Linked DNA regions of Homo sapiens. The protein of the gene in region 1 interacts with the protein of each later gene in a biochemical or structural test. Each region holds a gene or a part of one and is shown on either strand. Other genes may lie near its edges.

Evidence for each region.
Region 2: the proteins of SLC15A5 (region 1) and MAGI3 interact in a test that uses a peptide from one of them, tested with the Homo sapiens proteins (one large-scale study listed by IntAct).

Annotation. Positions count from the first base shown.
Region 1 is NC_000012.12:16,218,686-16,222,185, forward strand, and holds part of SLC15A5 (solute carrier family 15 member 5), read right to left. Parts: intron 1-3,500. UniProt on the Homo sapiens protein: Proton oligopeptide cotransporter.
Region 2 is NC_000001.11:113,645,515-113,649,014, reverse strand, and holds part of MAGI3 (membrane-associated guanylate kinase, WW and PDZ domain-containing protein 3), read right to left. Parts: intron 2,530-3,500; coding exon 2,373-2,529; intron 1-2,372.

The DNA.
Region 1 (3,500 bases):
TATGAAACTGCCGTCATATACGTGATCCATCATTGATCAAAATGTTGTTACGTGTTGCATGACTGTACTGTAAACACTAAACATTTAGTTTCCTTCTCTATGAGAAGTAAGAGATCTTATTATCTCTTCCTGCTCCTCTCGGGAATATTTACCCCTGGTTTTTTGTTTGCTTGTTTGTTTGTTTTTAATACTTTGCTGCAGCAAAACTCTGCATTTACCAGAACTTTTCCATGATCTTACTAACACATGATGTAAATGTATTAATGCTCCTTCCTTAATTTAAAATTTCTGTTTTACTTTCGGTGTGTCCTGCACATGTCTTGATTTATTTATCCCATAAAGATTTAAAGGAATCCCATTTTGCACTTCAGGAAAGTGCTCAGTGCTGGAACTGAGAGGTGGGAAAAGGCATCAGTTTATCTTTCCTGGACTTTAAACTCTGGAGCAGAAACAGCACATTATTTAGTACAAAGGGCAGTGCTAAATGTGCACTTTTCCCACAAACGCTGATTGGAGATGAAGATAATAATGGTGATAGGTAAAATACTGTGGAGAAGGGCTTCAAATATTGGTGGCACGGTAGCACAGCTCTTTGTGTAGTACCAATCACCAGCAGGAACCTTGGAGTATTTTCAGAAAGGTCCAAATGGGAATATGAGAGGAAGCCTGAATAGGCTTTGGGAATAAATGATTCACAGTTATAAAAAGGATTTGGCTTATAAACTTTCCTTTCCATAAGTACAAGGAGACAAGCAATGAGCAGAAAGAGTAAGTAGGCCTATTTCTTTCACTAAGAAAAAGCAGAACATACAAGCCCATTATTACTCTGCTAGTTAATTATTAATCCTATGCTTTTCTCCTGCTAGAACTTCTGGTACGGTATATAATTCATGAACACACTTTGCCAGCTCTCTGCCTGCTGGTTAATCTCTCTTTGGTGTCATTTTAGTCGTTTTTGAAAACCTCCAGTTCCCTTTTATAGGACTTAGCTTTTCAAGTCCTCGAATCTTCATTTTTAGGCATCTACTTGCATGTTCTGATCTTTTGAAACTTTAGTGATCATCAATTTGATTTTTTTTAGGCTCCGAGATATTTCTTTTAGCCCATTACAATGTAGATAATATCAATAAGTCTGTCACTATTGTAAAGTTCCCGTTTTTCTATGAAGACACAATAAAAAATATTCAGTGTGTACGTGAAAGCTGGTCTTCTTGCCAATGAGCGCTAAAAATGTGCCTCCAGGTAGTAGCTGGTTAGTGCTTGTAAAGATGCCACATCACAGCATATGAGGAATCTTCAAAATATAGGGCCATAACCACCTTCCTAAGGCACCTGGTACTGGGGACTTATTGCTGGAAATATTTTTTACTCTCGTTGTTCTTAAACAGTTAAAATGTGTGTATTGTGTTTGGTGAAAAGTTATTTTGAACATGTGGAGAAGAAGTACCACAGTCCCAGAAAATGGAACTTTATCCTGTTGCCATTTTTAGACCATTATATCTCCCTTAACCCTAAAAAAGCTTCAGCTTTGAAGCTCATGTTATCAGACTATATCATCTACTTCCCTTTCATGCTGTCATCTGCCAATCTATAGGACATTTTCCTCTTTTTCTCAGAGTTGTCAGTTCCTCTCTCATTGTCACACTCTCTGGTACTACTTCTGCCTTAATACTTGGCAATTTTACTATACATGTAGATCATCCTTCCCACCTTCCATCCTTTCAATCTTGGTTGTCCAGTTCCTTGACCTCCAATGTCTGATCTCCAATCTACCTCAGCTTCCACTCCACTCACACCCAAGGTCATGGCCTATGCCTTGTACCTCAGACCAGTGGTTGGCCAGCTATGGTCAGGTAATATTCAGTTTGCCACCTATTTTAATAAAGTTTTATTGGAACACAGCCACGCTCATTTATTATATGTTGTCTATGGCTGCATTCATACCACAATGACATAGTTGAGTAATTGTAACAGAGACTGGCCTGCAAAACCATGTGTTGGATCAATAACTGTACCCACTCCATAATCACAATTTTGTGCACCCTTCTCTGATTAGAGCCTTCTATCTTCCCAACTTACTCTCCACTACTCAACCACAGAGATGCTATAAGCTATAATGGCAGAAATTTTTGTCTTATTTTTTTTAACTGATGTGTCTAAAACTTCGAGAGCAGTATTAGGCACACTGTAGACACCCACACAGTATTTTTTGAATAAACAAACATAGGGTATGAGACAGCTGAGGTGTACGCTGCTACAATTAAAACATAATTTGAAAAGTTTCCTACTGCTTTTTTTTTTCTAGCTCATCTCCAATGTATAACATGTCTTAGTAGGGTAGGCTATGTCTACTGTCATTTATGGAGTGATTCACTGTGTTTCCTTGCTCAATGCCATCAATGTAGGACACTGTCAAAAGTTTGAATAATACATTTTTATTGTACCATATAGAAATAGCCGTAGACTTCATTCATTTGTTTCTTCAATCAAAATGTATTTATTGATCACCTATTTTGTATATGTACTTTTCGGAAAGGAGAAACATACCTTGATGTCAGGAATGTATATTCTTACAGTGAGAGGCAGGCAATACAAATATAAATAAAGTAATTTCAGATTCTGACAAGTGCTATTTAAAAAACCAGGGTAATTAAGTGGAAAGTGATGGAATGCTCAAGGAAGCCCCTCCAAAGAGAAGACCTTTGAGAAAGCTCAATAATGAGAAGCCAGTCATTTGAAAACAGAGGAAAGGGAATTCTGAATAAAGGATAAAGCAAGTACAAAGGACTTGGGGTAGACAGAAATCTAGCATCTTAGAAACACACACATTTCTGGGGATGTGGTCAAGGGGCAGATTGTAACCAAATGTAGGTGGAACAACACGTGGAGACCAAATCATGTGGAACATTATTCACCATTGTGAATAATTTATCTCTAAAACTCTACTGTGGAATTTCAATCAGGGGAATGATAGAACTTATGTTTTGAGAAGAACACCACAACTGTTTTGAAGAGAATGGACTCATGGGGCAGGAGAGGAAGCAGGGAGAAAAGTTCAGAGGCTCTGGTCGAATTGGGGCTGGAGATGATGGTGTTGTACACCAGGAGAACAAAGGGGATAGTGAGATGTGGCCAGATTTAAGTTATATTTCAGAGTAAAAATGAGGACTTGCTGTTGGATTGGAGGGGAGAGGTGAGAGGAAAGAGATGGATCTAGGATGAATCAAGTGAGAGACAGTTCTGCTTATGCTTCCAGGTCTCCCAGCTGTTCAGGTGGTTTATGGCAGAAAGAGCTGGGAACAGGACACCTGTGCTTCTGTTCTGAGTCTGACACTATTAATTCATGTGAAACATGATAATAATATTAGGTTGGTGAAAAAGTAATTGTGGTTTTTGCCATTACTTTTAGTAATGATAACAACACATTATAACTGCTAATTATTGAATGCTGTCTATATACGGGGCACTGCGGTTTTTGCTTTACATAAAATCTTCCACTT
Region 2 (3,500 bases), on another chromosome or scaffold:
CATTTACTCTCACTTCCATATACTCAGTATTACACTGCCATTAACTTCTAATGCTGTCCAATCAATATAACAATGTTGAATTCAGAATGATCAAACTTGAGTTTGATATTTGACAGGTGCAAATGACCTAAGTTAACACTTGGGTAAGGTACATTAAATCTGTACAGGCACTGCTGTATAGAGTGCCTGTAAAATACCTTATTCCTGCTCTCAAGCTAATACCTTTCTCTCAGAAAAGTATTCCATATGAACTACTTACCTAGCCTAGTTTTGCAAAATGATAGCATTTTAAAGGAAAATAATTAAGAGCTAACATTTATTATTAGCCCCATTTTCTAGGTGGGAAAACTGAGGGTGTAAGTAAGTTGGCCATTGTCACATAGCAAGTGGTGAAGCTAAGATTTAAATCCAGGTTGATTTCCAGGGTCTAATCTCCTAACTCATACTGTCCTACCCTCAAAGGGTAGGTTGTATTCCTTAGAATATTAAGCAGGAGGATTGCTTGAACCTGGGAGGCAGAGGTTGCAGTGAACTGAGATCGTGCCACTGCATTCCAGCCTGGGCAACAGAGCAAGACTCCATCTCAAAAAAAAAAAAAAAGAATATTAAGTCACAAAAATCTATTTCATGACTAAAATTTTTCCTTTGGGAAAATATTAATGTTATTTATAGGTAAGAAGTATTTACTGTAAAGAGAGAAGAAATAAACATGTCAGGGAACTATGTAAAAAGTGAGATTAGTAAATTCCTGATAATATTCTATAGAAGCAGTATCTTTTGATATATACTTCCTATTAAAATTGTAGAACTTTAGAGATTAAAAGAGTCCACTTTGGGAGGCCGAGGTGGGCGGATCACGAGGTCAGGAGTTTGAGACCAGCTTGACTAACATGGTGAAACCCCGTCTCTACTAAAAATGCAAAACTTAGCCAGTCATGGTGGCATACGCCTGTAGTGCCAGCTACTCAGGAGGCTGAGGCAGGAGAATTGCTTGAACCTAGGAGGCAGAGGTTTCAGTGAGCTGAGATTGTGCCACTGCACTCCAGCTCCGGGTGACAGAGCAAGACTCTGTCTCAGGGGAAAAAAAAAAAAAGAGTCATCAGTTCAACTCACTTATTTTATGGGTGAAGCCTGATGGGACTGCAGAGTTTATACCAGTATTAATAATGTATCAGGCTATGAATGGAAAGTATGAAGAAAGGGATTCTACATTGTTATGCTAATTTAAATTATTGCTTTGCTGGGCGTACAACTGGTTTTCATCTTTCTGAATATGGCTTGGGATTATCAAGATGTACTTCTGCAACTAGTTAAATAAGCATTAAGTCAACTATACATATATTCCACTTGTACATATCTTTTCCAAGGTAGATTTACATCTCTTTCTAAGAACAAATAAATTTTAAAAAATTATACCTACTCAAATCTGCAATTTTACTTTGGAAAAGATTTATCATTAGTAAGTGAATTAGTAGGAACATGCATGAATTTCTGCCTTATGCAGTCTCTCTTTTTATCTCTCAGCTGGACTCCTGTAAGGAGTCAACTCTTTAGTTTCTTCTTCAAATTGCACACCCTCCCTCAAATTGCATACACCTCTGATTCATCCTTCATACTCCTGCCAGAAAAACCTTTCTAAAACACAAAACTATGCCTTCCTTATAGTTAAAGGCATTCTGTGGTTCTCTGTTATTTATATGACCAACTCCAGCTCCCTTGGAAGGGCATCATTGGCCTTCCTCAATCTGTTCCTGCTCTCCTCTGTGACTTTCCTTGCCAATTGCACCCAGCGAAAGTGAACTACTTGCAGAGCCCAAGTCATGCAAGGCCAGTGTGCATGTGCTATTCCTTCTATCTTTCCCTTTTATCTTCCTCAAAGACACTTTTTCATCCCTGATGACTTAGTTAAAGCTTTGCTTCCAGTATGAAGCTTTTCCTGACACTTCCTACTGCCCACACTGATAAAACTGAATATTCCTTCTTTGGATCCCAATTTATCCATTTCATCTTTCTATCACTGTACCTGTTAGGCTTATTATGTGTACTTATTTGTATACTATTTGATTACATATTTGTCTTTTTCCATTTAGTTCTAATAATATTTTTGGGTGCAGGTCCTATGTAACCTATTTATCTCTGTATTCTGGTTACCTAGTATGGCATCTGGTAGATAACTAGCACTTAAAGCATGATTTTGAAAAAAATGAATGTGTGAATGTCGAATATACATGGAAGAAGTCCAGAGTTCTATTAAAATGGTAATGAAGGAATAACTTTTCAATATGCTTCTGAAAGATGGGAAGGTCCTAGTCTAAAATAAATCCAAATTTATCTTGTTATATGCTCTCCTGAAATATTCCACAACTACTTACGTTTATCTTCATATAAAGTCTTAGATTTCAGGTAGACCTCAGAAGGATCCAATTTTGGGGATCCTGACCTGATAATGCTCGGTGGAAAAGGCATAGGCTGAGGAATAGGCTCATTTATGGCCTCCAAACTTCCTGCATTTTCCTTTTTATCTGTTTTCTGAAATGGAAAAGAGCCTTACTTAGTATTTTTTAAAAAGCAGATGGTTGATTAATTCATAAAACTGATATCTGAAATGGATATGTCAACTGATTATAGTTGTATAGGTGGCAGGATCAAAGACACAGCAGATTTACAGTTACAGGAATTCATTTTCATAGCAATGTGTATTTGGTTGAAACATATTTAACTTAAATTAGAAAAAAGTTTATAGTAATATCAACTGAAGAGCCTTAGTTAGTCCTATGTTTAAACAATTTTGCCCTTTTCTCCACCACCAAGACACAAATTGACTTTGAGATGAAGATAAATAGAAATACAATACAAGGCAGCACTTCTAAGTAAAGTAAGAGGGAGATTCAGAGAATATCTTCATAAAATTCTTAGCACGGCCCACCTCCCATTCACTGAGTTTAATTTCTAAGGAAGATGTTTAAGATAATACTCTTTCTAAGAAAACAGGAGAGGTTAACTCTAATTTAGGTTATAAAGATGGCACTGTGAAAACCCTGTCTGGCCAATTCACATATATTAAGAGAAAATGTACCATGCAAGACAATTAGATAAGGGAAAGCATAGTAGCATATTTTGATATTTTTCCTATTCAGCTAGAACTTTCCCAAGATAACAGCCAAGCAAAATGACTTATTTAATAAAATGTTAACAATGAAATCCAATAAATGGCCTAAGAAATATGGTTTTGAGACCAGCTCGTTTTCCTGGATTATTGTTAGGAGAGGGAGATTATGGATGTTTGTGATCATTAACAATGACTAGAATGCAGGGGCACCAGTCTGTCAGGGAGTAATCAGGGGTCAGCCACTACAAAGTGTCGTGCTAGAGGGGACCCTTCAATCACCCAGACCCAATGAGAAGGCAGAGAAGCTAACAGTAGTCTCCTACCCTTCCCCATACATCTTAGCATTCTGTCAGAGGCGGTTAAAGTTCATCAGACCCTTCCATCAATTATA